Linked DNA regions of Homo sapiens. The protein of the gene in region 1 purifies or fractionates together with the protein of each later gene. This does not show direct contact. Each region holds a gene or a part of one and is shown in the gene's direction. Other genes may lie near its edges.

The links.
Region 2: the proteins of GPHN (region 1) and SLX4 purify together in Homo sapiens (co-immunoprecipitation; one large-scale study listed by IntAct). This does not show direct contact.
Region 3: the proteins of GPHN (region 1) and SPTAN1 fractionate together in Homo sapiens (co-fractionation; one large-scale study listed by BioGRID). This does not show direct contact.
Region 4: the proteins of GPHN (region 1) and MAGEA4 purify together in Homo sapiens (co-immunoprecipitation; one large-scale study listed by IntAct). This does not show direct contact.
Region 5: the proteins of GPHN (region 1) and ENAH purify together in Homo sapiens (affinity purification with western blotting, with the first as the bait; one study listed by BioGRID). This does not show direct contact.

The regions. Positions count from the first base shown.
Region 1 is NC_000014.9:67,107,864-67,114,179, forward strand, and holds part of GPHN (gephyrin), read left to right. Parts: intron 1-510; exon of another isoform or gene 511-599; intron 600-2,276; coding exon 2,277-2,396; intron 2,397-3,997; coding exon 3,998-4,056; intron 4,057-5,154; coding exon 5,155-5,308; intron 5,309-6,316. UniProt on the Homo sapiens protein: Microtubule-associated protein involved in membrane protein-cytoskeleton interactions. It is thought to anchor the inhibitory glycine receptor (GLYR) to subsynaptic microtubules.
Region 2 is NC_000016.10:3,588,291-3,594,606, reverse strand, and holds part of SLX4 (structure-specific endonuclease subunit SLX4), read left to right. Parts: intron 1-7; coding exon 8-154; intron 155-1,741; coding exon 1,742-1,908; intron 1,909-3,296; coding exon 3,297-5,605; exon of another isoform or gene 5,606-6,316. UniProt on the Homo sapiens protein: Regulatory subunit that interacts with and increases the activity of different structure-specific endonucleases.
Region 3 is NC_000009.12:128,627,071-128,632,586, forward strand, and holds part of SPTAN1 (spectrin alpha chain, non-erythrocytic 1), read left to right. Parts: coding exon of another isoform or gene 1-20; intron 21-315; coding exon 316-428; intron 429-854; coding exon 855-872; intron 873-2,054; coding exon of another isoform or gene 2,055-2,117; intron 2,118-3,250; coding exon 3,251-3,305; intron 3,306-5,056; coding exon 5,057-5,253; intron 5,254-5,360; coding exon 5,361-5,414; intron 5,415-5,501; coding exon 5,502-5,516. UniProt on the Homo sapiens protein: Fodrin, which seems to be involved in secretion, interacts with calmodulin in a calcium-dependent manner and is thus candidate for the calcium-dependent movement of the cytoskeleton at the membrane.
Region 4 is NC_000023.11:151,910,246-151,917,276, forward strand, and holds the start of MAGEA4 (melanoma-associated antigen 4), read left to right. Parts: upstream 1-2,643; 5' UTR 2,644-2,724; intron 2,725-5,264; exon of another isoform or gene 5,265-5,392; intron 5,393-5,991; exon of another isoform or gene 5,992-6,075; intron 6,076-6,679; exon of another isoform or gene 6,680-6,757; intron 6,758-7,031. UniProt on the Homo sapiens protein: Regulates cell proliferation through the inhibition of cell cycle arrest at the G1 phase. Also negatively regulates p53-mediated apoptosis.
Region 5 is NC_000001.11:225,641,286-225,647,601, reverse strand, and holds part of ENAH (protein enabled homolog), read left to right. Parts: intron 1-6,316. UniProt on the Homo sapiens protein: Ena/VASP proteins are actin-associated proteins involved in a range of processes dependent on cytoskeleton remodeling and cell polarity such as axon guidance and lamellipodial and filopodial dynamics in migrating cells.

The DNA.
Region 1 (6,316 bases):
TTATTTGGCCTGTAGGTCAGGATATCTTGGCTCAATCAGCACTCTGTTTCCCTAGGACATGAGTGACTACATCAGCTCAGCCTGGGATGCGTAGGTGCTCAGCTTGGCAAAGTGTGTGCAACATACTTTCTAAGCCTTGCCATAACAGAGCAATATGTCTGGAAAAAGGATGATTAAAGAAGATTAGAAACTATCTCCAATGTCTGGATGGAGTTAAGGGAAACCAATAAAGGAATCTGCAGCACCCAGGAGCTAGCAACAGTGAGATTTCCTTACCACATCTTAGTCTGAAGGAGCAAAGAAAGACAATGGTACCTGAACCTGGGAAGATTCATATCTGTGGGAGAGGACTGCCCAACAGCAGCTCTTGCTCTCAGTAGGAGAGATGCCCTAACCATCACCAAACTGCAGCCCAGGAGGAAAAGAGCAAGGGGAATGAAAACTCTACTTTTCTGTCTCTCTCCTACCCTCTACATCTCTTACTGACCCCTCCCTTTGGCTGAGTCTCACCAGACGCCAAAGTGGTGGGAAACTGGTTAAAATAGTCCATAGAGGTCAGCTTCTGGACCACAGCACAGAGTAGAGAATGATGATGTGATCTGGAGAGGCAAACAGAAAATGAAACAAATCTTTGTCTTTGTAAGGCTTATATTCTGTAATATATAATGCACTTAACATTGTACCTAGCATAGATTGTGGGTTCAATAAATATTAGTTATTGGTAGTATTGCTTACAGTAATAATATTATGGAGAGAAGATTTTTAAGACTTTTGTAATAAATTTCCTGTTTTACTTTGATTGTACTTTCAGTAGTAAGGTATTTTTTTTTCTTAACCATTCCCTAAGGGGTGTGTGTGTGTGTGTGTGTGTGTGTGTGTGTGTGTGTGTGGTTTATTTTACTTTGTCTTATTTTGGTGGTTAAAATAACAACAATGACAAAACATACACACACATAACATTAAATATACCATCTTGACAGTTTTTAAGCTTATAGTTCAGTAGTGGTAAATATATTCACATTGTAGGGACTTAAGATTTTAAATAGAGTCATGAGTTACTTAATGAAGATATATTCTGAGAAATATGTTGTTGGGCAATTTTCTTGTTGTCCGACCATCATAGAGTGTACTTACACAAACCTGCATGAGTAGCCCACTACACACCTAGCCTACATGGTGTGACCTGTAGCTCCGAGGCTACAAACCTGCACAGCATATTACAGTATTACTGAATACGTAAGCAATTATAATGGTATTTGTTTATCAAAACAAAAAGTACAGTAGAAAATATGGTAATCTTATAGGACCACCATCATATATGCAGTCCAACATTGAGCAAACTATCCTTATGCAGCACGTGACTATACTTATGAGGCAGACATCTTTAGAAAGGAATCTTTTGGCAGGGGGGATTAATATTGTCTCAGGATTTTTTCTTAGGGAGAATTTGAAGCATTCATTTTCCAAACTCCAGTCTAAATCATTGCCCCTGACAAGTGACTTTCAGATCACTTCTCTATCAGATCAAATCTATCAGATGAATCTTACAGAAAAATGCTTTTCCTCATGTTGTAAGAAGTTAGCAGGGAAGGTTCTGTCTCTTATACCATCAATATGAGAGCACAAACAATGAAAATCTTGTTTTTCATTTTCAAAAGTAATGTTTAACCTAGGTCATTACAGACACTGGAATCATTTTTAAATGATTTAATTATATTTGCTCAACCTCTATTATTAATTGATAGGTGAGCTAATGTGTTTTAGAATATTTTCAAAGGCAATAATTAAAATATTTCTGGCTTGCCTTTATTTAACCAAAAAGTTTAGTTAATAAAGTACTGCATTTCTCAAACATTAGAACTTCAATAAGTTATGAAGATTTTTTTTTGTAATTGTTATTCACAATGTATGTCCTAGCAATTTTTTTACTTACAGACTCTCAAATCACTTTACATATATTAGGAAAATGTACATTATTTGAGAGGCAAAAGTGGCAAATGTAAATGGCAGTTCTTCAAAAGTAAAGCAGAGCACCAAGACACCGAATAGTCATTACCTTAAAGTACACATAAAATCAGCTTAAATGAACCTAAAGCCCCTTTAGTGTGAGTGCACCTGTTTGTGGATAGCTTTTATTACACTGGCCCAAAATGAATAAGACTGTAAGACTTTCTTTTATGGTTTATTTTTTAATATTAAAAAAATTAACATCCTCTGCAGACTTTTCCTTTGCAGCAGCAAAGTACATCAACTGTCTTTTTCATCTTTATTTCCAGCCAACTCAGACAGTAATGCCAGGACAAGTCATGCGGGTTACAACAGGTGCTCCAATACCCTGCGGTGCTGATGCAGTAGTACAAGTGGAAGATACCGAACTTATCAGGGAATCAGATGATGTACGTCATCACCAAGTCTTACTGTGCTGTTGTTCCTATGGCAGTATTATGTCACAACCATTTTCTGCAGTGTTTGTGAGATTAACCCAGTTTTTTGGGTTGTTTAGTTTTGTTTTGTTTTTGCTTATGGTGGGATCTTATATTGTAGTATATGAGTCTCCAGTAAATAAGAAATTTCCTTAATCTTGAAAATCTGTTGTTACAGGAGGGGTTTCTATGATCATTGCTGTTATAGCAGAATTTGAATCATATTTGACCCAAGCAGTTTCACATGCAAACAACGAAAGAAAGTACCTCAAGAAAGAAATGCAGAGATATTAATGGTTGACATACCTTCCAGAGCAGAGATATTAATGGTTGACATACCTTCCAGCTGAGAAATTTGCCATTGAGACTAGCTTCTGATAAAATGTCAAGGAGTTCATGAAATCAGAATTTACTAGAGAAGAATTTAACAAAGAGCACTTGGGCAAGTTCTTGAATATTACACTAAGCCAAGCATTTGAACCAAATGACCCTTTCACCTCTGGTTTTCTGTAAGTCTGGAAAAAGCTGTGCCACCAAATGACAGCCTGGAAATATTAAGTGTATGTCAGTTCTCCCTCCATTGCCTCAAGTAAAAGATGCTGGAATCTTTTTGGACCTAAGCAAGCCTTTATCTCACTGAAAATAGTGGCAGGTTATTGAAACCAGAGTATAAGCCAGTAATAAAAGTAGAATAGATTCAACTGAGGTTTTAATAATCAGCTCTCTTACTTGTTTTATGAAGAAAGTAAAGATATATTTTAAAGCTGAGGTGAAAAATAAACATATATTCTCCCAAGCCGAGTAGATAGTAAAATTGGCCATGCCAAGAGACAGACACTTTCCCTGATCTGGAGATTTTCTTTTTAATCACCTTTCCATATGTAAGGCTTATAAAATTCAACCCTTGGCAAACAGATCACATTGCCTGCTGTTAAAACTGCCTAAGCAGATTTATTGGCATCAGGGAAGCCAGCAAAGCACTGAATTCCAGAACACATACATCCACAGACTCTGCCAGATGACAAGACACAGTTCCAATGTCACAATATTATTCACAGCCCATAAATGTAAAATTGATTACTGCAATTAATGGACAGAAATCTACTACCAGGCAAACTATAAGTCCTTTACTGAAATTTCTGCAAGTATTTGGTAACCTTGGCATGGTATTGAACCCATGATTCATGGGAAAAGAAGGAAGATATTACCTCCACACACGTTCACTTTATTAGGGTAGCCACCTACATATGTATATAAAAATATATAAACAAATTCTATATAATGTATTAGTTCAAATATTAAATCTTATAAACAAGATTTAATATTTGAATTGGTACATTTTTTAAAAGCATAAAAATTGGAGAAAAAAATTTTTTATTTATTGGCACCAAACCTTCTAATTTTTCAGGAACCTGTGTTAGAAATTCAGTGTTTTCAAAGGGTGTAGCAAATAGTTTTCTTTTTGTCTATATTTGTATATATCCTGGGCCTATCTGATGGTAAAAGTATCGGAGTAACTAAATTCTACTGCTCAGAAATTCTGTTTGAAATTACATGACCGGCTGTTATTATAGGGCACTGAAGAACTTGAAGTGCGAATTCTGGTGCAAGCTCGGCCAGGCCAAGATATCAGGTAACTTCAAAACACATAGAATATATAGCCTACTTTTGTTTCTACATGATCATTTACTCAGGAAACCCTGGCTACTATAAATCTGCAGCCATGTCAGTTAGCCATTAATTTTCAGGGCTTTAACAAAAAGCAAAATGAATGTTATGAATTCTGTATCACATATCTGCCCTGCCTACTTTTTAATGAAGATGGTAAAGGCGAGTTAGTCAAAAGCAAGATGAGAAAGAGGTAAAGTCATGAGCCTACATATTCTACAGTTAATTCTACTTCTAGATAATCCAGAATTACCCAATCCCATCCCTAAATAATCTGGAATTTGGTATCAACTCAGATAATACCAGAATTGGGTATTTACACAATTAACTAATAGCATATGCTCTAGTGACTACCAATAATAATGGAATAATCTGTTCCTTGTTATATACAAAGATGAGGCTATTTGCTATGATAAATAGTGCATATACCTTAAATTATTTTTCTTAAAATGGAATATGTTTACCCTGATTCCATTAATACTAATTTGCTGAACATCCCTTTGTAACGAAGCTACACTTCTCCCATCCCTATGGCAGCACACCAAGGTTAATGTACCTCAGTAGCCACAGATCAGGACCAACCTAAGTGGTCCATATGGAAATTACCTCTATGACTGTAGCCTCATTAGCATTATTCTCCTTGACAAAGCTAGCCAGCTGTGGACCTCTTATCATTAATGCCGCTAGATATTGCCATACAAATTCTTGCCTTATCAAAGAAAGTTTACAATTGGTATTTTTACTATAATGTAACATAAAACAATTTGTAAAGTAATTTTATTCACAGGTACTCATGAAAAAAAATTTCAAATATGAAGTAACATGTTTTTCTTTAGCAGTAATACATTCAAATCCTATTTCTGTTTTCTGTTGTGTGATTTAACTTTTAAAATTAAAAAAGCATAGGATTTTTAGAATCCCTTCAATTCATTGTTTTCCTACTACTTTATTTCTAGACTTTTTTGTCTTCTTGAATGTCCTTTTTTGACACTAAAGTTTCCCTCTGAGTTGAGAAAATGTTGTTCTCTAATCACACTGCTTATGGTTCTGCTTTGACTTTCAGACCCATCGGCCATGACATTAAAAGAGGGGAATGTGTTTTGGCCAAAGGAACCCACATGGGCCCCTCAGAGATTGGTCTTCTGGCAACTGTAGGTGTCACAGAGGTTGAAGTTAATAAGTTTCCAGTGGTTGCAGTCATGTCAACAGGGAATGAGGTATTAAAAATAAAAATGGAGGGAGTGGGGAGAGGGCCCATAAGATAAAGGTATTTCTGACATATGTTCTGTGTTGTAAATAGAATGTTGTAGATTATAGATCATACCAGTGGATCCACATTCTTATAACAGGGAAACAATAAATTGGCTTTAGGATAGTTTCAAGTTCAGAATATGAGAACAAAGAAGAACTAGTAAAAATTATGTATTATGAAATGTTCTCTTCTATTAGAATGAAATATTATAACCAATGGCCTTTCCACAAAGTCAGTACACATAAGCAAAAAACTTTAGCTGCTAGCTATAGATATTAAACTATACAAACTCAGTACTGTTTCTGTTTAGACAATGAATTGTGCCCATCCTGCTGCTGAAATGATGAGCTACTTCTGTGTGGGAAGTATCAATGAATCAGGACATCATGGCTAGCACTTCTTGTGAAAAGTTCCATTTGATCTTTAATCACTAAGAGGGATTTGATAATCAGGTTTTTTTTTTCCTCTCTCTCTCCCTAAAGATAGCATCTCTAGTGGCATGATATTTAGAATGGGTCAAAATGTCTTTTCATTCCTGATTTAGAAAAGAGAATTTAGTCCATCTCTTTCTGAGAACTCTTGAAAAACTTCCTATTGCTTGTTTTGCTTAGGTTGTGCAAAACTTCAGTCAGAAGCTCCAAGGTCAAATGGAGAATACTAAAAAGTGAATCTGCTGGAAACTCAAAACCTTATAAAAGAATCAGAAACTATTGAGATTTTTAAAAGTATTAATAATTCCTTTGACCTTACTATTAAAGAAAAGATTAGCGGGATTTTTTAAAAATCTCTTTGTTCTGAAAATAAACCCATCATTATTTTTAATTTCTTGAAGTCTTGGAAATGAAAATTTTCAGAGGTCTTTTTATGACATTATAGTCCTTTTGGTTAAAGCAAAAGAATAGACTGTTTTATTTTGCAAATAGATAGCTAAATCAACATTCCAGATGTGCTTACTTCCCAGTATATATGCACT
Region 2 (6,316 bases), on another chromosome or scaffold:
GCTTCAGCTCTCCCTCGGGCTGCTGGTTGCTGACTTTGGCGCCATGGTCAATAACCCACACCTGAGTGATGTCCAGTTTCAGACGGACAGCGGGGAGGTGCTTTACGCCCACAAGTTCGTGCTTTATGCCCGATGCCCGCTCCTCATCCAGTATGTAAGTACGTGGGCTGCCGTGTGCCCTCCTTTCCTCTCTCTCCCTCTCTCCTCCTGCCTTTCTCCAACCAGGTCTTCCCATGTCTCAGGTGCCCTTTCCACCCCCCCACTCTCCCTCACTTCCTGCCCCACCATGTTCTCACCTTCTCCCTCCCAACCATCCGTTTCTGCAACACGTGGAGAAGAGATAAAGACCCACGCTTGAGGTTAGGAGTGGGTGTGAGGGGATGGCCTCACAACTGGGAAACATCAGTGTTTTCGTTCTGTTGAATGAAAATCCATTGTTTGGCCGGGCGCGGTGGCTCACGCCTGTAATTCCAGCACTTTGGGAGGCCGAGGCGGGCAGATCACAAGGTCAGGAGATCAAGACCATCCTAACACAGTGAAACCAGTCTCTACTAAAAATACAAAAAAATTAGCCGGGCATGGTGGCGGGCGCCTGTAGTCCCAGCTACTCGGGAGGCTGAGGCAGGAGAATGGCATGAACCTGGGAGGCGGAGCTTCCAATGAGCTGAGATTGCACCACTGCACTCCAGCCTGGGCGACAGAGCAAGACTCTGTCTCAAAAACAAAACAAAACAAAAAGAAAATCCATTGTTTCCCAGAATTGTTTTCTCTTTTCTCTATTTGCATAATTACAAAGGCTCATAATTGATCTCCTCAGGGATGAGTTGCTGATGAACCTGCCTTCTGACTTGAAAGCATTTGACTTGAGTGTGGGCAGGAACTCAGGGAGCTATTCTCAGTCTTTGTCAAAGTTCTGGATCCCATATGTGTCTATCAGGAGGACTCTTAACGGGGTCCTGGAATATCTAGTCCCAATACGATTTGACAAAAGAGGAGTGTTAGGCCTCACCTGTAAAATTATTGGCCAAAAATCTGCATAAACAGTGGCTAATGCTTTTCCTGGGGCATGGAGCTGCTTTTAAGACTAGGGACCAGGCACGGCGGCTCATGCCTGAGATCCCCGTACTTTGGGAGACTAAGGTGGGAGGATCGCTTGAGGCCAGGAGTTCAAGACCAGCCTGAACAACACAGTGAGAGCCCATCTCTACAAAAAAATTTAAAAATTAGCCTAGGGGCTGGGCGCAGTGGCTCACGCCAGTAATCCCAGCACTTTGGGAGGCCGAGGAGGGTGGATCACCTGAGGTCAGGAGTTCCAAGACCAGCCTGGCCAACATAGTGAAACCTTATCTCTACTGAAACTATAAAAAATTAGCCGGGCATGGTGGTGGGCGGCTGCAATCCCAGCTACTCGGGAGGCTGAGGCAGGAGAATACGCTGGAACCGAGGAGGTGGAGGTTGCAGTGAGCCGAGATCTCACCACTGCACTCCAGCCTGGGCAACAGAGAGAGATTCCAACTCAAAATAATAAAATTAATTAAAATTTAAAATTAGCCTAGGAGTTCAAGGCTGCAGTAAGCCATGATCACACCACTGTACTCTAGCCTGGGTGACAAGGGGAGACACTGTCTCTAAAAAGAAAAATAAAAAGACTAGTGACTTGCAGGACACCCCAGACCGTCTGCTTTGCTCCAAGTTACAACTCTCTGATCAGTAAACCCTCTGTGTTGCATTTCACCTGCAGGTGAACAATGAAGGCTTCTCCGCTGTAGAGGACGGGGTTCTGACCCAGCGTGTCCTGCTGGGTGACGTGAGCACCGAGGCCGCCCGCACGTTCCTGCACTATCTCTACACTGCGGACACTGGCCTTCCTCCTGGCCTTAGCTCTGAGCTGAGCTCCCTGGCCCACAGGTCTGGATTGCTCCCCAGCTTTTGAAATTAACTGACGAGGACTGGCAGGTTAACAGCTCTGGAGGGTTGTGCTGCAGAGGGCTCGGGGCTGAGGCCAAGAGAACTAACAGTCCTGTTTATACCTTTTAATCCCAAGTCCATGACCAGTGATGACCCTGTGGAACAGGGCATGTTAGGTGAAAGTCAGGCCAGAACAGACCCTTGCAGGGGTGCCAAGCACTGGATCAGGAGGACTCTATTGAGTCCCGTGGTTTTTAACCCCCTAGGTGTGATAAGAGAATGGCCCTTGGCTACAGCGCCCCCCAACACTGCTGCTCAGTGATTGTTCCACCACTAGACCTGAACAACAGCAGTCCTTTCCAGAGTCCCATAAAACAGGCATGGAGAGAATGCTTAGGCTGCATCCCAGATGCCACAGCTCTCCTGGCTTGTCCAGCCAGCATCTTAGGAGAGAGGCAGCAGCTCAGAGGGACAAGTGTTGTGCCTCTGGACAGGGCCTGGGCCGCTGATCCGAGCCTGCGTCCTCCCTCCGCTGCTTTCTTAGGAAAGGAACAGCTCAGCCTCTGGAGTTGGAAATATACTGACGGGCCACAGAGCCTTCAAGCAGGTGGCTGGCTGGCTTGCCCGTTGGCCTGGGCTGACTCAAGGACTTGGTGTGCTGTGGATTGTGTCTGATGCCATGTCTTTTCATTTATTTTTTATTTTTTGGAGAGACGGAGTGTCGCTGTGTTGCCCAGGCTGTTCTTGAACTCCTGACCTCAAGCAATCCTCCTGCCTCCGCCTCCCAAAGTGCTGGGATTATGGGCATGAGCCACCATGCATGACCTTTTTTATCCTTTTAGAGACAGAGTCTCTTGCTGTTGCCCAGGCTGGATGGCAGTGGCATGATCACAGCTCACTGTAGCCTTGAACTCCTAGGCTAATTTTTACATTTTTTTGTAGAGATGGAGACTTTCTATGTTGTCCAGGCTGATCTCAAACTCCCGGCCTTGAGTGATCCTCGGCTTCCCAAAGTGCTGGAATTTCAGGCATGAGCCACAATGCCTGGCTCTGACACCATATCTTAAGAGCCTCTGAGGCAGCACAGACTCCCCAGTTTTGTAGCTCTGCCAATCCCTGTTACCTTACATTCAGTCCGACACACCCCTTTATGTCTGCAGCTATAGTTAGGAAGCCCTGCTTTAAGTGTTGTCAGTCCCCGGTTTCTGGAACTAAGTGGCCTGGGTGTTTCTGGCAAGGAGTGTGGACACCGTCTTCAAAGGGAAGCAGGGCCTGGGTCATGGTCATTCCTCCTGGTGAAGACTCTGCTCTGGTCCGCCACCCCACCGGGGCACCCAGAGCCCATCTCCACGCAGAGGGGCGATGACTGTCGATGTTTCGTGTTGCAGGTTTGGCGTGAGTGAGCTCGTTCACCTGTGCGAACAGGTGCCTATTGCCACTGACTCAGAGGGCAAACCATGGGAGGAGAAGGAAGCAGAGAATTGCGAAAGCAGGGCCGAGAATTTCCAGGAACTCTTGAGGTCAATGTGGGCAGATGAAGAGGAGGAAGCGGAGACTTTGTTGAAATCCAAGGACCACGAAGAAGATCAAGAAAACGTGAATGAAGCAGAAATGGAAGAAATTTATGAATTTGCAGCTACTCAGCGAAAGCTTCTCCAGGAAGAAAGGGCAGCGGGTGCCGGCGAGGACGCTGACTGGCTGGAGGGTGGCAGTCCGGTTTCTGGGCAACTCCTAGCAGGTGTCCAGGTGCAGAAACAGTGGGACAAGGTGGAGGAGATGGAGCCGTTGGAGCCAGGAAGAGATGAGGCCGCCACCACCTGGGAGAAGATGGGACAGTGCGCTCTCCCGCCACCCCAGGGCCAGCACTCAGGGGCACGGGGAGCAGAGGCCCCTGAGCAGGAGGCGCCAGAGGAGGCGCTTGGCCATTCCAGCTGCTCCAGCCCTTCCAGGGACTGCCAGGCAGAGAGAAAAGAAGGCTCTCTTCCGCACTCAGATGATGCCGGGGATTACGAACAGCTCTTCTCATCAACTCAGGGAGAGATCTCAGAGCCGTCCCAAATAACAAGTGAGCCCGAGGAACAAAGTGGCGCTGTCAGGGAAAGGGGGCTGGAGGTTTCTCATCGCCTGGCTCCCTGGCAGGCATCTCCACCGCACCCGTGCCGCTTCCTATTGGGGCCTCCCCAGGGCGGGAGTCCCCGCGGGTCTCATCACACAAGTGGGTCGTCCCTGTCAACACCCCGGTCCCGTGGCGGAACTTCCCAGGTGGGCTCCCCAACCTTGCTGTCTCCAGCTGTGCCATCAAAGCAGAAAAGGGACAGGAGCATCCTCACGCTGTCTAAAGAGCCAGGGCACCAGAAAGGCAAAGAGCGTCGGTCCGTGCTGGAGTGCAGAAATAAGGGGGTCCTGATGTTCCCAGAAAAATCTCCGTCTATTGACCTAACCCAGTCAAATCCTGACCATTCGAGCTCCAGATCTCAGAAATCTTCATCCAAACTGAACGAAGAAGATGAGGTCATCCTCTTACTGGACTCGGATGAGGAGCTGGAGCTAGAACAAACCAAAATGAAGTCCATTTCTAGTGATCCTCTGGAAGAAAAGAAAGCTCTAGAAATTAGCCCTAGGTCCTGTGAGCTGTTTTCCATCATTGATGTTGATGCAGATCAGGAACCTTCCCAGAGCCCACCAAGAAGCGAAGCTGTGCTGCAGCAGGAGGATGAGGGGGCGCTGCCGGAGAATCGGGGCTCTTTGGGCAGGAGAGGGGCTCCCTGGCTGTTCTGTGACCGTGAGAGCAGCCCCAGCGAGGCCAGCACCACAGACACCTCGTGGCTGGTGCCCGCCACCCCGCTGGCCAGCAGAAGCCGTGACTGTTCTTCCCAGACCCAAATCAGCAGCCTCAGGAGCGGGCTGGCCGTGCAGGCGGTGACTCAGCACACGCCCAGGGCCTCAGTAGGAAACAGGGAAGGGAACGAAGTCGCACAGAAGTTTTCTGTCATCAGGCCCCAGACACCACCGCCCCAGACACCGTCCTCATGCCTCACTCCCGTCTCTCCAGGAACTTCTGACGGCAGAAGGCAAGGCCACAGAAGCCCTTCCCGTCCCCACCCCGGGGGCCACCCGCACTCCTCTCCGCTGGCTCCACATCCCATCTCAGGGGACCGCGCCCACTTCAGCAGGCGGTTCCTGAAACACTCGCCGCCTGGGCCAAGCTTCCTGAACCAGACCCCAGCGGGTGAAGTGGTGGAAGTCGGAGACAGTGACGATGAGCAGGAGGTGGCCTCCCATCAGGCCAACAGAAGCCCCCCACTGGACAGTGACCCCCCAATTCCAATTGACGACTGCTGCTGGCACATGGAGCCCCTCTCGCCAATTCCCATTGACCACTGGAACCTGGAGCGGACCGGCCCCCTGAGCACCAGCAGCCCCAGCCGCAGGATGAACGAGGCCGCCGACAGCCGTGACTGTCGCTCCCCGGGACTCCTGGACACCACCCCCATCCGAGGAAGCTGCACTACCCAGAGGAAATTGCAAGAGAAGTCCTCGGGCGCGGGCTCCCTGGGGAATAGCAGGCCGAGCTTTCTGAATTCGGCTCTGTGGGACGTTTGGGACGGGGAAGAGCAGAGGCCTCCAGAGACCCCTCCTCCGGCCCAGATGCCAAGCGCTGGTGGAGCTCAGAAGCCCGAAGGGTTAGAGACACCCAGTGAGTAGCCAGGAGAGCTGGGGAAGGGGACTGTCTTTGTTACTATTTTACACTAAGAGGGTGGGAAGATCAGTCATGAGACCCAGGGGCTGCCCTCTGAATGCCTGCTGACCTGAGGCATGACACTTCCGCTGCCTTCCAGACTCCCCTCCACAGTGGAGGAGAGCCGGGCTGGTTCTCATGCTACACTTCTCAGCCAGTAAGTCAGTGTTTCCCAAACTTGCCTGGCTCCAGTGCTCACCTGGGCATGTGTTAAAAATCCACATCTGTGGACCCTTCTCCAGAACACGGAGCCGGCACCTCCAAAGGCCACAACTCATTCAGCAAGTATCGGCATGCCTTAAGATTGGACCAGGGTGGTTCTCCAGAATGTTAACCGTAGATTGACTGCAGGACCCAGCAATTCCACTTTTACCTGTATATCCAAAAGAATTAAAAACAGGGACTCAGACATGCATGTTCATAGAAGCGCTGTTCACAATCGCCAAAAGCTGGAAGCAACCCAAATGCCCGTCAGGAGATGAACAGGGAAACCAAACGTGGTCCATCTAGACCACTAGAAAATGGAATAGTGTTCAGCCACAAAGAGGAGTGAGGCACTGCCACACGCTACCGCGTGGACGACCCAGAAAACATGCTGCCGGGTGAGAGAAGCCAGACATAGAAGGTCATGTACTGTCTGCACTCATGGATATGAAATGTCTAGAATAG
Region 3 (5,516 bases), on another chromosome or scaffold:
CCAAAGTGCTGGGATTACAGGTGTGAGCCACTGTACCCAGCCAGAAGTTTCCATTTCTGACAGTCCAGCAACTCCCTGCTTGACTGACCAGTCGCTTCCCTCCAGGTCCGCCTCTTCCTTGAAGCCCCTGGGGGGTGGGAACAGAGAAAGAACTACCAAGTGCTCTGAGCCGGCCTCATGTCTCCCAGCCTCCTCCTCTCATCTTTGGGGAGGTTCCTTGTGGGGAGGCCACCACCACCCTGAGCCCATCTGTGAAGGAGGGGCTGGTGTCACTGCCACAGCAGCGCACAGCATCTGCCCCCCTTTGGCCCTCAGGAGAGGGAGCTGGAGCTGCAGAAGGAACAGCGGCGGCAGGAGGAGAACGACAAGCTGCGCCAGGAGTTTGCCCAGCACGCCAACGCCTTCCACCAGTGGATCCAAGAGACCAGGTGCCAGCCCGCTGGGGCCGGGGAGCAGCAGCATGTCCCTGCTGTACTTAAGCCCTGGGGAGCTTCCAGCCCCAAGGAGGTGGTGGTGCTTTGTGTAAAACCAGAGGCAGCCTGGGAATAAAGCTGGGCTGGCAACGCCTGGTCGGGCTCTGGAGCCGGGAGTGGGGGCATAGGTGGAGCAGCCTCTCAGTGCTGCATGTCCCAGACATCAAGTTGTTAGAGATCCCGGATTGAGTGGGACCATGCAGGGCGCGTGGTCAGCCCCAGCCATGACTTGGTGACAGACGATGCAGGGTCTGTGCGTTGGGTACTGATGTTCTTGCTTTTGTTTTCCTTTCTTTCTTGTGTCTTCTCTCTGTCCCCCCGATTGCTGCTGTTGTCCGGACACCACCTTGTCTCCCGGCTGCTTGGATCTGCTCTCCACAGGACATACCTCCTCGATGGGTTAATATTGTTTTCTTCCTTCTCTGGGCTTGTCATGTGGGGGTCTCGTGCGCTTGCCCCTCGTGGCCTGGCTTGTGGAGGATCCCGGGATGGGCCTTCCTGCCCAGGGCGGGCTGCACTTCCCCTCCCACCCTTCTCGTCACCTGATGAGGAGTGTGTGCCTTGCCCCATAGCCCATGGTCCCTGGTCCCCGATAGAGCCTTCAAGCCAGGGGGAGCCGTCCTTGCCTCACTGGGCGATTCCAAGGGCTCACTTTGGGTAGGGAAGGTGATGAAGCACGAAGGCCAGAGCTGGAGTCCAGAGGCCCTAAGAACCCCCGTGCCTGTCCAGCCACCGGGCTCTGTTGGGCTCTCACCTCTGCTTCCCCAGCGAGTCCAACAGTGGTCAGTGGGCATGAAGCAGATGGCAGTGCTGGGGGCTCAGGCAGGGTACAGTAAGTCCACAGCTGAGAAGGGCTGGGCACTGACACCCCCTAAGTAGCTGAGGCTGCCACTTTACTTTCCTGGGGTCAGGGAGGGTAACAAGACTGTCCGCCCTAATAGAAGGCAAAAATGCACCCGTTATGTGATAGACAGGACGTGGGAGGAGCCCCAGGGAGGAGCAGGGCTGGGCTGTCCCGCCCAGTCCCGGCAGGGACTTCTCTGCTTGGCCTGGGGCCTCTGCCTGGCCGGGTCACCTTTGTAATCTGCCAAGCCTGCTGTGAAAGCCAGGGCTGCTGGGACTGGAGTGGCTTGGCCTGCACTCCTGAGGCTCTGCACCCAGGCACATCAAGCCTGTATAGGCGGCCAGGGGAGAAATAGACCCATCCAGCCGGGCCACACATTCTGATGGCAGAGCAGCTGGGGACGTAGGGATCGCAGTTTCCGGCCTGTGCCCGTAGGACACCCTGGCCACCTGACTCCCCTCCCTGCCCCATGCCTGTGTCTGCTGGTCTTGCTCTTGTCTCCGTGAGGTGCCACGCTCCCCTCACCTTATGGCTCCTCCCAAGCCCTGCCCATCTTGCCCATTCCTAGTGTGAGCTGCCTGGGGTGAACCACTGGGCCTGCTGCCTCCAGGTACCCGCCGGGCACCAGGTTGCCCTTGCCTGCGCCCTGCCAGCTTGGGCTTTGTGTGTGTCTGTTGCAGTGTGCTCTTGCCTCCCCTCCCTTTGGTGTATTCATTTGGTTTCTTTTCTTTGAATAGCATAGCATATCGTCGGGTCATTCGTGTCTATCAGTATGAAGTTGGGGATGATCTGTCTGGAAGGTTTTTCTCCTTATTTCTCTTCTTACCTCACTGTGGCTTTACTGATGCACTCTTGACATCCCCAGGCGGCTCCACCCTGACTAACCTGCCGCCCTCGGCTGCTTGGGAAGGAGGGGTCTGTCCTCCCACTGCACCGGCACCCAGCCTCCTGCCCCCAGGTCCTGGGGGGCATTTTCCCCGGGGGGACATGGCGTGACTGTGAGTCTGACCTGCTGGGGTAGGAGGAAGCCTGGTGCCTTGCCTTGCTAGAGCACTTTGAACCTGGGGAGATTGCAGAGCTAACCCTGGCTCGCCGGGTTTTAAAAGGGTAGGTTGGGGTGAATGTGGGTACAGGGGAGCCTGGGCTAAAACCCCACCAAGGCCACACGCACCGTGTGATTCGTCCCTGCACGTAACCCTAACTCGTTTGTTGTCTTTGTTTACTGGTAGCCTCTGTGACCTGGCACTGTGTTCTCTTGGGAAGGAGGCTCCCCAGAGCCCATCTGCTCTCAGAACTTGGTCCTAGAGAGGAGGCTCCCTCCCTGGCTGTGTCTAGAGGATGGAACCGGGATCTGGGGTTTAGTCACAGCCATCTCTCTCCTTTTGGCACAGTTGGTCGTGATCTCCCAGCACTCCACTTGTGTCCTTTGTCTGCAGGGTCGTGCTCTCATTCCCCCTAGAATGGGGCTCCCTCCCTCAGGAACCTTGCCGGGACACTCCAGGGTTTCTGTGGGGAGGCTGTCAGGTTCTCAGCCTCCCCTCTGCCCTGAGGTCTCCTGTCTGTCAGGTGTCAGGGTGTGCCATCCCCCACATGGCTGCAGAGAGGATGCTCAGACAGGCCTGCAGCCACCCTGCACCCATGGGGGAATTTAAACTCCATTCCTGAGTCATCCTGGCCTTGGGAGCAAGACGAGTGGGCTCAGCCCTGGCCCACACCAAGGCAGCAGCTTCCCATCTCTAAAACGGGAGAAATGCTCCCTGCCATCCCTCGATCCCTGGGGCCCATTAGGTAAAGATGGCCAGTTGCAGTTAGGTTTGGTTTCCTTAAAAGGAATGTGAGGTTGCCAGGCATTGCTCTCTCTGAGAGAAGGTTCATTCTGAGCTCTCGGCCAGCTGGGAGCAGGCCCCTTTCCTCACTGTCCTTCCACGTTTAGGTCCTGTATGGTGGAAGAGTCGGGGACCCTCGAATCCCAGCTTGAAGCTACCAAAGTAAGTGCCCGTGGGGCTCTGGCCCAGCAGAGACCCTTCACCCAGCCACCCCCCAGGGTACCCCTTCCCTTCCTGGCTTAAAGTCAGGAACCAGATGTGCTATTATTGTACCCTTTTCCCTTGGCCTAAAGCAGTCTAGGGCTCTTCACTATCTCTCTCTCTTTTCTTTCTTTCTTCATGGAATCTCTCTCTCGCCCAGGCTGGAGTGCAGTGGTGCGATATTGGCTCACTGCAACCTCCACCTCCCAGGTCAAGCAATTCTCCTGCCTCAGCCTCCCAAATAGCTGTACTACAGATGTGTGCCACCACATTTGGCTAATTTTTGTTTATTTTTAATTATCTTTTGAGATGGAGTTTCACTCTTGTTGCCCAGGCTGGAGTGCAATGGACGTGGTCTTGGCTCACTGCAACCTCCACCTCCTGGGTTCAAGTGATCCTCCTGCCTCAACCTCCCAAGTAGCTGGGATTACAGGCGCCCACCACCACACCTGGGTAATTTTTGTATTTTTAGTAGAGACAGGGTTTCACCATGTTGGCCAGGCAGGCTGGTCTCGAACTCCTGACCTCGGCTGATCTGCCCGCCTCGGCCTCCCAAAGTGCTGGGATTACAAGCGTGAGCCACCACATCTGGCCTAGTTTTTATATTTTTAGTAGAGACAGTGTTTTGCCTTGTTGGCCAGGCCGGTCTGGAACTCCTGATCTCCAGTGATCTGTCCACCTCAGCCTCCCAAAGTGCTGGGATTACAAGCATGAGCCACCACTCCCGGCCGAGGGCTCTTCACTTTAAAGAAAGTCTTTGGGGCTGGGTGTGGTGACTTACACCTGTAATCCCAGCACTTTGGGAAGCCGAGGCGGGTGGATTGCTTGAAGTCAGGAGTTCGAGACCAGCCTGGCCAACATGGGGAAACCCCATCTCTACTAAAAATACAAAATATTAGCTGGGTGTGGTGGCAGGCACCTGTAATCCCAGCTACTCAGGAGGCTGAGGCAGGAGAATCACTTGATTCTGGGATGCGGAGGTTGCAGTGACCCGAGATCAGGCCATTGCACTCCAGCCTGGGTGACAAGAGCAAAACTCCCTCTGAAAAAAATTACTTGGGCATGGTGGCCTACACCTGCTCAAAGTCCAGCATGGGCAATATATAGCAAGACCTTGTCTTAAAAATAAGGCTGGGTGCAGTGGCTCATGCCTATAATCCCAGAACTTTGGGAGGCCAAGACAGGCAGATCACTTGAGCCTAGGAATTCAAGACCAGCCTGGTCAATGCAGTGAAACATCGCCTCTACTAAAAATACAAAAATTAGGCAGGTGTGGTGATGGGCACCTGTTAGTTCCAGCTACTCAGGAGATTGAGGCAGGAGAATCACTTGAACCCGGGAGGTTGCAGTGAGCGTGATTGCGCCACTGCACTCTAGCCTAGGCGACAGTGAGACTCCATCTCAAAAAAATTTATAAAAATCTTTGGCCACTGCTTCCTGGAGTCCTCGCCGTACTTGTCCTTGGCGTGCACTGCCCTCTGGCAGGTCTACCAGCTGCTTTGGAACCCTCACATTGAAAGTCTCTCCCTCTATTGAGGTGGTTGGGATTTCTTCAGCTTCACCCCATCCCACTATTCCTATTCTAGAATGTTCTTGTTTTACGAGGTCTCAGGCCAGGCCTGGAGCAGGAACCAGAGGGCAGTAAGTGGCTCCTGGGCTGGTGACTGAGCTGAGGGCCCCCGTCTGAGCATCTGTGCTCCCCACCCCTGCAGCGCAAGCACCAGGAAATCCGAGCCATGAGAAGTCAGCTCAAAAAGATCGAGGACCTGGGGGCCGCCATGGAGGAGGCCCTCATCCTGGACAACAAGTACACGGAGCACAGCACCGTGGGCCTCGCCCAGCAGTGGGACCAGCTGGACCAGCTGGGCATGCGCATGCAGCACAACCTGGAGCAGCAGATCCAGGCCAGGTACCCGGGAGGGCTGTGGGCCAGGCTCAGCCCAGAGCAGGGGGAGGAAAAGACACAGTCACCTGCTGTGTGGAGGGTCTGTTCCCTAATTTCTGTTTTTCTTCCAGGAACACAACAGGTGTGACTGAGGAGGCCCTCAAAGAATTCAGCATGATGTTTAAGTGAGTTCAGCCTTACTCGCCCTGGCTGGGTGGGGGGTGTTCGGCAGCAGGGCTGCCTGCTGAGCCGCCCTCGGCTTTGTGCTGCAGACACTTTGACAAGGA
Region 4 (7,031 bases), on another chromosome or scaffold:
GAACAAACAAGCTCTACCCAAGGAAAGAAAATATGATTTAACATTAGAAAAAAAAGTTTCATTGTAATTTTTTACACACAAAATAGAGGAGAAAAAATTTATCACATCAATGGGTACAGGAAAAGCTTTTGGAAGAAATTCAATATGAGTTCATGGTAAAAATATTTAGTTAACCTATATTGAAAGAGAACATACATTTCCTAAAATCAACAGCAAACAAATTTAAGAAGTTCAAAGAATTATCATTAAAGGCAGGAACACGAAGTAGATGTAGGCTATTATCTCTACGTTTTAAATCATCATTGAGACACAAAGTCAGAGCTATAAGTATCATAATAAATAAGGGGCATGAATATAGGAAAAATACATAATGTTTAGTGATAATACCCTTATCATTCTTGAAAATTCAAAGAAAAAGGCATGTGGAATATTCAAGTCAATGGGTTTTCAGAATGAGGTGTACAACAGATTACTATAGCAAAATCAAATTCTCTGCCACACAATAGCAATAACTATTAGAGTTAATTAATTTCCATTAATTAGAACAATTAATAGAAAATATGCCATTTGCAATAGCAACAAAATCCAAGAATTACCAAAAAAGAAGCCTAAGAAAAATGTGTAAGGTCTTTCTAGAGGAAACTATCAAAGTATACTGACAGATTCAGGTAAAAGGAGTTTGAAATAAGTAAAGGAGCATAACCTATTCATTGATCAGGAGCAGAACATTGTAAAAATGTCAATTCTGCTTAAATGATTTACAATTTAGTGTCTTACCTGTAGCTGCCAAAAATTACAGTCACACTTAGGCTGCTGTTCTCTGGTTCCCAAATCAACTCTGGAAAATTATAGAAGAGAAAAAGAAAGAAAGAAAAAACAACAATATAAGCAATAAAATCTAAGCAACAAAACACAGAAAGTCCTGGGTGAGACTGAGGACTGTGTTGAACTGGTACTTATGTTTGGGGCGGTGTCAGTTGGAGGGGGGTTGGCTGCAGGGATGTTGAAGTCTATAGCCTGCCTAGACGTCAGATGACAGAATGAATAGGATGAACATTTTAAAATCTCCACCTCACTGCACTGCACAATCTGAGGCAGCACCTCAAAACACGATTCCAGTAACCCTAGGGTAATAGCAGGACAGCAGGAAAATTGGGTTGGTTAAGGCAGTATGGTTCCGGAGATCTGCTAATTACAACCTGAAACCAACTTAGTGGATGAGGATTAGCATTATTATTATTATTATTATTAATATTATTATTATTATTATTATTGAGACTGTCGCCCGGGCTGGAGTGCAATGACTCGATCTTGGCTCACTGCAACCTCCGCCTACCAGGTTCAAGCGATTCTCCTGCCTCAGCCTCCCAAGTAGCTGGGATTATAGGCGCCCACCACCACGCCCAGCTAATTTTTTAATTTTTTTTCTATATTTAGTGAAGACAGTGTTTCACCCTGTTGGCCAGGCTGGTCTCGAAAAGAATTATTTTAACAGAACATAAACAATGGAATAGAAGTTGAATAGGGTATCAGAGTGAATCATGCAAACTAAGGGTAGGTATTCTTTCATAGAAATAAATATATATGTTGCTACCTATATATATCCTTGGAAGATATGTAAAATATATTTCTTTGAGGAAAAAAGGTTTCCAAAGTCCAGCTCTGGCTGGGGAGGAGCCCCCGTGGGAAGGCGTGCATCTTCTCACAGAGGTCACTACAATAACGGGTGCTGCAGCCACCCAGGGAACACCTCGCCTGGTACCCGCAGCCATTTTCTGCAAGGGGTACAGCTGGGCAAATGCTCAGAGGTGAGAGAAAAAGAGCATCTCCAACCCATCACTTCAACAAAGAGCCAGGACCCAGGAAGAGGACCCTCCTGAGTGAAGACTGAGGGTAAACCCCCGCTCAAAGAGGGGCCACAGAATCCAGCTTAGTCCCTCCTGTCAGCCCTGGAAGACCCCAGCGGCTTTGTCGCCCAAGGACACCTCTCCCCCCACTGTGACCTCAGGGGACTAGGAGTCAGAACCTTGGTCTGAGGGGAGCAGACACCATCCGCAGAGAACAGGGGTCCAGGCTATGCCAGGAATCAAAGGACTGAGGGGCACGCCTACCTCAACCCCTAACCCCAGGACCTCTCGCCTCCTCCCCCACCCCAACTCCCACCCTGGCCGAATCCGGTTCCACCCCTGCTGTCAACCCAGGTGGCCCGGATGTGACATCCCTGACTTGCGCATTGGTCTGACCAGCAACTCGAGATCCACGGAGGGAAGCAGGCGCAGGCTCTGTGAGGAGGCAAGGTGGGGGCAGGCTGTGCCAGGCGTCAAAGTCAGGACCCTAAGAGAGAGCTGAGGGTTCCCCACCCCCATTCCTATCCCCCACCCCATTCCCATTCCCTTCCACACTCCTAACCCAATCCACACCCTCATCCCCTACCAGCACCCCATCCTCCCCAACCCCGTGCCACCCTCATACCCCCATCCCCAATTCAACCCCCGCACCCTCATCCCCCACCCCACACCTGCACCCCCACCCCCCAACACCCATACCCCCATCCAGGCAGGATCCCCGGTTCCGCCCCCGCTTTCAACCAAGGAAAGCCCCAGCTGCCCGGATGTGATGCCACTGACTTGCGCACTGGGGGTTAGAGACAAGCGAGCTTCTGCGTCTGACTCGCAGCTTGAGACTGGCGGAGGGAAGCCCGCCCAGGCTCTATAAGGAGACAAGGTGAGATGCTGAGGGAGGACTCAGGAGGACCCCCACCCCACATAGACGACCACAAAAAATCCAACACCACCCCTGCTGCCAGCCCTGGGCCACTCCTGGAGACTTCTCAGTCTGTGGTGGGGGGGCCACCACCCCACTGCCACTTAAGCCTCAGGGGATTCTGAAGTCAGAGCTTGGGGTGATCAGTGCAAGACTGGTGGGGGCAGGCTCTGCCAGGCATCAACCTCAGGACCCTAAAAGCCAGCTGAGCGTACCACACCGCTATTCCCATCCCGCAACCCCATTCCCATCCCCTAACCCCTTCCCATTCCCATTCGCACTCACAAACCCATCTACACTCCCATCCTCCACCAGCTCCCCATCCTCCCAAACACCCCACCACCTTCATACCGCCATCTCCCACCCCCAAAAACCCGCCCCCTCCACCGACCTCACCCCTCCCACCCCCATCCACGCTGAATCGGGTTGCGCTCCCTCTTTCAACCCAAGAAAGCCCCAGGGGCCCGGATGTGATGCCACTGACTTGCGCATTGGGGGTTAGAGAGAAGCGAGCTGCTCTGTCTGACCAGCAGCTTGGGATTGGCGGAGGGAAGCGGGCCAGGCCCTGTGAGGAGTCAAGGTGAGACGCTGAGGGAGGACTCAGGAGGCCCCCACCCCAGATAGATGACCCCAAATAATCCCGCACCACTCCTGCTACCAGCCGTGGGCCACCCGTGGGCGGACTTCTGAGTCTGGGGCGCCCACCACCCCACTGCCTCTGAAGTTGCAGGGGACTCTGGAGTCAGAGCTTGGGTTGATTAGTGTAAGACTAGTGAGGGCAGGCTCTGCCAGGCATGGACCTCAGCACCCTAAGAGAGGGCTAAGCGTACCCCACCCCTATTCCCATCCCCCACCACGTCCCCTTTCCGATTACCATTTGCACTCCCAAACCATCCACGCCCCCATCCCCCACCAGCACTCCTCTCCTCTTCAACCCCCCACCTCTCTCATACCGCCATCTCCCACCCCAACAACCCGGGCCCTTCTACCAACCTCACCCCTCCCACCCCCATCCACACTGAATCACGTTCCGCTTCCGCTTTCAACCCACCCCCAAAAACCCGCCCCCTCCATCGACCTCACCCCTCCCACCCCCATCCACGCTGAATCTGATTTCCGCTTCCTCTTTCAACCCAAGAAAGCCCCAGGGGCCCGGATGTGATGCCACTGACTTGCGCATTGGGGGTTAGAGAGAAGCGAGCTGCTCTGTCTGACCAGCAGCTTGGGATTGGCGGAGGGAAGCGGGCCAGGCCCTGTGAGGAGTCAAGGTGAGACGCTGAGGGAGGACTCAGGAGGCCCCCACCCCAGATAGACGACCCCAAATAATCCCGCACCACTCCTGCTACCAGCCGTGGGCCACCCGTGGGCGGACTTCTGAGTCTGGGGCGCCCTCCACCCCACTGCGTCTGAAGTCGCATGGGACTCTGGAGTCCGAGCTTGGGGTGGTTAGTGTAAGACTAGTGAGGGCAGGCTCTACGAGGCATCAACCTCAGGACCCTAAGAGAGGGCCAAGCGTACCCCACCCCTATTTCTATCCCCCACCGCCTCCCCTTTCCCATTACTATTTGCACTCCCAAACCCATCCGCGCCCCTATCCCCCACCAGCACTCCTATCCTCAACCCCGCACCTCTCTCACACCGCCATCTCCCACCCCAAAAACTGGGGCCCCTCCACCAACCTCACCCCTCCCACCCCCATGGATGCTGAATTGGGTTGCGCTTCCGCTTTCAACCCACCCCCAAAAACCCGCCCCCTCCACCGACCTCACCCCTCCCACCCCCTTCCACGCTGAATCGGGTTTCCGCTTCCGCTTTCAACCCAAGAAAGTCCCAGGTGCCCGGATGTGATGCCACTGACTTGCGCATTGGGGGTTAGAGAGAAGCGAGCTGCTCTGACCAGCCGCTTGGGATTGGCGGAGGGAAGCGGGCCAGGCCCTGTGAGGAGTCAAGGTGAGATGCTGAGGGAGGACTCAGGAGGCCCCCACCCCAGATAGACGACCCCAAATAATCCCGCACCACTCCTGCTACCAGCCGTGGGCCACCTGTGGGCGGACTTCTGAGTCTGGGGCGCCCACCACCCCACTGCCTCTGAAGTCGCAGAGGACTCTGGAGTCAGAGCTTAGGGTGTTTAGTGTAAGACTAGTGAGGCCAGGCTCTGCCAGGCATCAATCTCAGGACCGTAAGAGAGGGCTAAGCGTACCCCACCCCTATTCCCATCCCCCATCACGTCCCCTTTCCCATTACCATTTGCACTCCTAAACCCATCCGCGCCCCCATCCCCCACCAGCACTCCTCCTCGACCCCCCACCTCTGTCATACCGCCATCTGCCACCCCAAAAACCGGGGCCCCTCCACCAACCTCACCCCTCCCACCCCCATCCACGCTGAATCGGGTTCCGCTTCCGCTTTCAACCCACTCCCAAAAACCCGCCCCCTCCACCGACCTCCCCCCCACCCCCATCCACGCTGAATCGTGTTTCCGCTTCCGCTTTCAACCCAAGAAAGCCTCAGGGGCCCGGATGTGATGCCACTGACTTGCGCATTGGGGGTTAGAGAGAAGCGAGCTGCTGTCTGACCAGCAGCTTGGGATTGGTGGAAGGAAGCAGGCCAGGCCCTGTGAGGAGTCAAGGTGAGACGCTGAGGAGGACTCAGGAGGCCACCACCCCAGATAGACGACCCCAAATAATCCTGCACCACTCCTACCTGCCGTGGGCCACCTGTGGGCGGACTTCTGAGCTTGGGGCGCCCACCACCCCACTGCCTCTGAAGTCGCAGGGGACTCTGGAGTCAGAGCTTGGGGTGTTTAGTGTAAGACTAGTGAGGCCAGGCTCTGCCGGGCATCAATCTCAGGACCCTAAGAGAGGGCTAAGCGTACCCCACCCCTATTCCCATCCCCCACCACGTCCCCTTTCCCATTACCATTTGCACTCCCAAACCATCCACGCCCCATCCCCCACCAGCACTCCTCTCCTCTTCAACCCCCCACCTCTCTCATATCGCCATCTCCCACCCCAACAACCCGGGCCCTTGTACCAACCTCACCCCTCCCACCCCCATCCACACTGAATCACGTTCCGCTTCCGCTTTCAACCCACCCCCAAAAACCCGCCCCCTCCATCGACCTCACCCCTCCCACCCCCATCCACGCTGAATCTGATTTCCGCTTCCTCTTTCAACCCAAGAAAGCCCCAGGGGCCCGGATGTGATGCCACTGACTTGCGCATTGGGGGTTAGAGAGAAGCGAGCTGCTCTGTCTGACCAGCAGCTTGGGATTGGCGGAGGGAAGCGGGCCAGGCCCTGTGAGGAGTCAAGGTGAGACGCTGAGGGAGGACTCAGGAGGCCCCCACCCCAGATAGACGACCCCAAATAATCCCGCACCACTCCTGCTACCAGCCGTGGGCCACCCGTGGGCGGACTTCTGAGTCTGGGGCGCCCTCCACCCCACTGCGTCTGAAGTCGCATGGGACTCTGGAGTCCGAGCTTGGGGTGGTTAGTGTAAGACTAGTGAGGGCAGGCTCTACGAGGCATCAACCTCAGGACCCTAAGAGAGGGCCAAGCGTACCCCACCCCTATTTCTATCCCCCACCGCCTCCCCTTTCCCATTACTATTTGCACTCCCAAACCCATCCGCGCCCCTATCCCCCACCAGCACTCCTATCCTCAACCCCGCACCTCTCTCACACCGCCATCTCCCACCCCAAAAACTGGGGCCCCTCCACCAACCTCACCCCTCCCACCCCCATGGATGCTGAATTGGGTTGCGCTTCCGCTTTCAACCCACCCCCAAAAACCCGCCCCCTCCACCGACCTCACCCCTCCCACCCCCTTCCACGCTGAATCGGGTTTCCGCTTCCGCTTTCAACCCAAGAAAGTCCCAGGTGCCCGGATGTGATGCCACTGACTTGCGCATTGGGGGTTAGAGAGAAGCGAGCTGCTCTGACCAGCCGCTTGGGATTGGCGGAGGGAAGCGGGCCAGGCCCTGTGAGGAGTCAAGGTGAGATGCTGAGGGAGGACTCAGGAGGCCCCCACCCCAGATAGACGACCCCAAATAATCCCGCACCACTCCTGCTACCAGCCGTGGGCCACCTGTGGGCGGACTTCTGAGTCTGGGGCGCCCACCACCCCACTGCCTCTGAAGTCGCAGAGGACTCTGGAGTCAGAGCTTAGGGTGTTTAGTGTAAGACTAGTGAGGCCAGGCTCTGCCAGGCATCAATCTCAGGACCGTAAGAGAGGGCTAAGCGTACCCCACCCCTATTCCCATCCCCCAT
Region 5 (6,316 bases), on another chromosome or scaffold:
GAATTTGGTTTTCTTTTGTTCTTTTTTAAATTTTAATTTAATTTTTATTTTGTAGAGATGTGGTCTTGCTATGTGGACCAGGCAGGTTTTGAACTCACCTGGCCAGAATTTATTTCTTATTCTAACACAGAGCTTGGAAGTGGCTACAAGTGTCAGGATTGTCTAAATTCTAAGCCCTTTGGAGGATACCATGTTTACTTGACTTTATGATTAAATTCTGAATTACTGAAAGGGCCATCAATCTGTTTTTAAGTCTCTTTGACCAAAGAACTTGTAAATATTTTCAAGTAACAAGCATATGCATCTCTATTGGTTTAATTTATTTTTACCCCATTTAGTGCTTGCTTTGTTTTGATTCTTTTTTTGTTTTTGTTTTTTGAGATGGAGTCTCACTCTTGCCCAGGCTGGAGTGCAGTGGCATGATCTCCACTCACTGCAGCTTCCGCCTCCTGGGTTCAAGCAATTCTCTAGCCTCAGCCTCCCGAGTAGCTGAGACTACAGGCGCGTGCCACCACGCCCAGCTAATTTTTTGTATTTTTAGTAGAGATGGGGTTTCAACATGTTAGCCAGGATGGTCTTGATCTCCTGACCTCGTGATGCGCCCACCTCAGCCTCCCAAAGTGCTGGGATTATAGGCGTGAGTCACCGCCCCCAGCCCTGCTTTGTTTTGATTCTTATCAGTGCTTCAAATACCAATCACTGGGTAGTGTATGATACTCTTGAAGTATTAGTGTGGGCTGCCATAACAAAATACCATAGACTGGGTGGCTTAAACAACAGAAAATTATTTTTTATTTTTATTTATTAATTTTTTTGAGACAGTCTCACTGTGTCGCCCAGGCTGGATTGCAGCGGCTCGATCTCAGGTTACTGCAAGCTCTGCCTCCCGGGTTCACACCATTCTCCTGCCTCAGCCTCCTGAGCAGGTGGGACCACAGGCGCCTGCCACCACGCCTGGCTAATTTTTTTGTATTTTTTAGTTGAGATGGGGTTTCACTGTGTTAGCCAGGATGGTCTTGATCTCCTGACCTCGTGGGATTACAGGTGGGAGCCACAGCGCCCGGCCTAGACATTTATTTTAAGGTTCTGGAGGCTGGAAGTCAGAGATCAGGTTGCCAGTATGGATGGGTTTTGGTGAGGGTTCTCTTCCTGGCTTGCAGAAGATATCCTTCTCTCTGTGTCCTCACATGGTAGGGTGGGTATGGGAATCCTGGGGTCGGGGAGATGAGGGGGGATTTCTCTCTCCTCCTCATTTCATAAGGCCATTAATCCTATTGAATTAGGGCCCTGTGCTTATAACTTAATTTAACATTAGTTACCTCCTAAAAGCCCTTTTTCCAAATAGAGTCACATTGAGGGTTAGGGTATTAACATATAAATTTTAGGGGAACACAGTTCAGTCTATAGCAGAAGATAACTACATTTTTTTTTTTTGTCAGTGCATACAACTTTGGAAGAAAATAATTTGTTTAATATTTAGGTGAACTTTAGATAAGTTTTGTTTTAAGTAACCAGAAGTTGTTTACTAAAGAAGATAAATTAGGGGGGTTGATTGATTTATACAAGATATCCGTTAAATTTTCTAGAAATCTCTTTACACTGGGAACCTTCTATTTTACAATGATTAAAGTAAGTTTTATTAACAGGCAACTTTTCCAAAGACTACTTTGGGTATGAGGCAATGTATGTATATCTAAGTGTAGAGATTGAATGGTGTAGGGTAAAGAGGACAGGCTTTGAAGTTAACTCTGGGTTTGACTCTAGTTTGACATTTACTAAATAATTTATTTTTGAGTGGGTTATAAACATTTTTTGGGATCGAATATACTTTGTGAATTATAGAGCTGTTGAGAAAATTAAATAAAATTCTGGCATAACACTTGGCACACAAAATGAGCTTGATAAGAGTAAATCCCCCACTTTTATGAAAGTCTGACATCTCTTAAGTTTATGTTAAGAATGTGAAAAACCATGTAAGATGGTGCAGCTGCTTTAGAAAACAGTTTGGCAGTTCCTCAAAAGTTAAACATAGAGTTATCGTATGACCCAGCAATTCCTTTCCTAGAAATGAAAACATTTGTCCACAGAAAAACTTGTACACAAATGTCTATAGTATCGTTATTCATAACAGCCAAAAAGCAGAAATAACCCAGGTGTGTCTGATTTCATGAATAGATCATCAAAATGTGGTATGTCCATACAACAGAATAATATTTGGCCATCAAAAGGAATGGAATTCTGATACATGCCACAGCGTAGATGGAAGCATTATGCTAAGTGAAATAAGCCAGACACAAAAGGCGATATATGCCATGATTCCATTTATATGAAATGCCCAGAATAGACAGATCTATATAATAACACCAGAAGATCTCATTTGCTTTTTACGTGAGTTGTTTCTGACATTTTTATTACTTTGGATTAATATTTTGAATTGACATCTTCGTGCTATTTAAAGAAGAGAGATTGAAGATAGAACCACTGGACATTTCTCTGTAGGGAAACAAGCACGTGGGAATGCTGAGGTGGAAACCTTGGTAGTGGTGGCTTTGAAAGGCCTGAACAAATTTTGGAGCTGTATCTTCGTGCTAAGGAGACAGCCAGCCATCTCTTTGGTAGGCCTGTTGTAAGTAAGGATGACTAAAGTCACCAGTAAAATGTGATGAAGCAAATCCATCAGAATCTTCAGAAAACTTAAATCTGGGTGGTGATTTTCTGGGGTTTGTTTACAGTAGTCTCAAATACCAAAAGTTTTGTCTTTGGGGAATGAGGTAATCATGATATTTTTAAATAAACTGAGCCCTTTTCCAGTGGTAAAGGCCTTATAGAACATCTGGTCTTGGTAAGAATACATCTGATGATGTGAAATCAAAATGACTACCTTTAACTGTGCCTTAGAGGTCCTCAGTCTTCTGTCCTTTTTGGTATCTGTTACATTTGCAACTTGGCAGCGGGGGAGCTTTATGAAGAACCAAGAACTTAAGTAAAATAAAATGAATAGCTCTTGAGGTCAAATCTCAAGGGAGTCCAAATTGCTCCTTTTACAGTTCAGTGAAGGGATCTTTTTATGCAGTCTTAATAATTATTATATACTGGTTATTTGAATATCTGCTTTGTTCTGCAGTCTTTCTCCTCCTCCCCCAAATTCTCATGTTAGACTGATATTGCAAGCAAAATTGTGACCGTTCAGTTTTTAACAATTTAAGATTTATGTATCTTAAGTTTTCATTTAAAACTTTTACTTACAGTCTACTTAATTGTGGTCTTTGCACAATTTTTTTAGAATTATTTTTAGAAAAATAAATCAATTACTGTTGTCCATATGTCTGGTCAGTATTTTTTTAAATTACTTTTTTCCTTCCATTGTAAAGTAGTACAGATTTTGAACAGATTTTAGAAGGTATGGAAAGTATAAAACATTTATTTATGAAATGTTAAATCCAAGCCATCTAGTATTTTAATATTTTAATGTGTAGATTTCTAAACTTTTTGTAGTGCATTTGCAGCATTGCAGATCATTGTGCGTGTGCATATGATTATATATAAAAGTAAGATTATACTATTTAAAAATGGAATTATACTATATTTGTATTGTGTATTTTGTAGCTTGTCCCTTTCCATATATATAATATCTATACTTTTTACATTTTATTATTTTTATTTTTTAAATAGGGTCTTAAACTGTCACCCAGGCTGGAGTGCAGTGGTGCAATCATAGCTTACTGCAGCCTCGAACTCCTGGGCTCAAGCGATCCTCCCATCTCAGCCTCCTGAGTAGCTGAGACTACAGATGTGCGCCACCACACCCTCTAATTGTTAAGATTTTTGTGCAGAGACAAGGTCTCGCTATGTTGCCCAGGCTGGTCTTGAACTCCTGGCCTCAAGTCATCCTCCCACTTCAGCCTCCCAAAGCACTCGGATTACAGGCATGAGCTGCTGTGTCCAGCCAGTAATTCTTGTTCCTAACTATATAGCTACATAACTTTAAGTGACTGCATAATATTCCATTGCTTTGGATGGATGACTTTGTCTACTTAAATCTTAAAGATGGACTTTTAGATTTGTTCCATTATTTTTGTTATTATAAAAAACACTGCTGTGAACATCTTTGGTTATATGTCTTTGTGTACATATCTGATACTGTTTTAGGATACATTCCTAGAAGTAAAATCAAGAAGTAGTGCTGTGTTTTGTTTTTTTTTTTATTTTTTGTTTCTTTACCTTTCTGTATCCAGTCTATCATTGTCCTACCAGGTCACCTTCACTTGCTTCTGTCCATCTCACTGCCTCAAGTCCAGGCCACTGTTATCTCTTACCTGAACTATTAGTGTTTCCTCATTTCCATTCATGTCCCCTGTTCTTCATGCATCACTCAGAATACTCTTAAAGTGGAAATCAGATATTGTTATTTCCCATGTAAAGCCTTCAGCGGCATCTTAGACTAAAACCCAAATTTGTCATAAAACCAAAATTATTAAGGTCTTGCGTGACCTGGCTCTGCATTCCAAGTTCCCAGCACAGGCCTCTGTGAGTATGCATAAGTATTTGAGTGAATAATAAACAAAATGACTAAAGGGAGTTGTATCAGTTTTTGATACACGTTACCAGATAAGCAAGAGTAGATGAGATTTCTAGTTACCCCACATTCTGGCCAGCTCAGGCCATTATCGGTCTTTTAATCTTTGCCAATGTGATAGGTAAAAGGTGTTACCTCATTGGTTTAATTTGTATTTCTTTGATTACCTGTAGGGTCTCTTTGTTTGTTTATTGGACAGCTTTATTTTTGTGTGGATGTCTGTTCATGTGCTTTTTCTGTTTTCCCAATGAGATGTGTAGTTTTTCTTCTAATGATTTATAATAATGAGGATATTAACTCTTCATAGTGCATATACATATATCGTATCCGATATTACTGCTGTTTAACAAAGCATCTCAAAGCCTAGTAAAGCTGTTACCCGGGCTGGAGTGCAGTGGTACAATCATAGCTTACTGCAACCTCGAACTCCTGGGCTCAAGTGATCCTCCCACCTCAGCTTCCTGAGTAGCTGAGACTGCAGATGTGCTACGGATTGGCTGGGCAGCTCTTCTTACCTGGACTCATTCGTGTGTTTTCCTTCACTTAGGTTCATCTGGTGTGTCTATCCCATCCCTCTGCCTCATCGCTCACTTAACAATAGCAGCCTCCTCATGACAACATGCCCTAGTATGAAAGCTCTTACCAGACCTCAGCTTGCATCCTGTTTGCTTATGTTTCTTTGGCCAAAACAAGTCATATGGTCAAGCCCAAAGTCAGTGGGGGAGGTGATTACACAAGGACAGATCAAGAGGTGCGATTCATTGGTGGTCATAATGTAAACTTTACTATATGTATCTTCTTTTTTTTTTTTTTTTTCCTGAGATGGAGTCTCACTCTTTCTCACCCAGGCTGGAGTGTGTGCAGTCATGCGATTTCGGCTCACTGCAACCTCTGCCTCCTGGGTTCAAACAGTCCTCCCATTTCAGTCTCCTGAGTAGCTAGGATTACAGGTGTGCGTCACCATGCCTGGCTAATTTTTTTGTATTTGTTCTTATTTTTATTTTTGAGATGGAGTCTTGCTGTGTCCCCCAGGCCGGAGTGCAGTGGTGCAGTCTTGGCTCACTGCAACCTCTGCTTCCCGGGTTCAAGTGATTCTCCTGCCTCAGCCTCCCAAGTAGCTGGAATTACAGATGCACGAGACCACGCCCAGGTAATTTTTGTATTTTTAGTAGAGACAGGGTTTCACCATGTTGGCCGGGCTGGTCTTGAACTCCTGACCTCAGGTGATCTGCCTGCCTCGGCCTCCCAAAGTGCTGGGATTACAGGTGTGAGCCACGGCGTCCAGCTTTTTTTGTGTTTTTAGTAGAGATGGGGTTTCATCATGTTGGCCAGGCTGGTCTCGAACTCCGGACCTCACGTGATCTGCCCGCCTCAGCCTCCTAAAGTGCTAGGATTACAAACATGAGCCACCATGTTCAGCCTTGTATCTTCGGTAATACTGAGTTTTCCATTCTTTTTTTCATCTGTATATTAAGATTTAAAATTTTATCTTTAGTGAAGTGTGCGGCAACTCATTGGTTTTTTTTAATTAAAAACTTTTTTTTTTTTTTTTTTTTAGAGATGGAGTCTTGCTGTGTTGCTCAAGTTAGTCTTCAACTCTTGGCCTTGAGTGATCTGTTTGCCTTGACCTCCCAAAGTGCTGGGATTACTGAACCACAGTGCTTGGCTTAGTTTCTAGTTTAATGGGTTCGACATGGTACCTTTAAAAAAACATGTTTAGAAGGAAAATGCATAATTTTT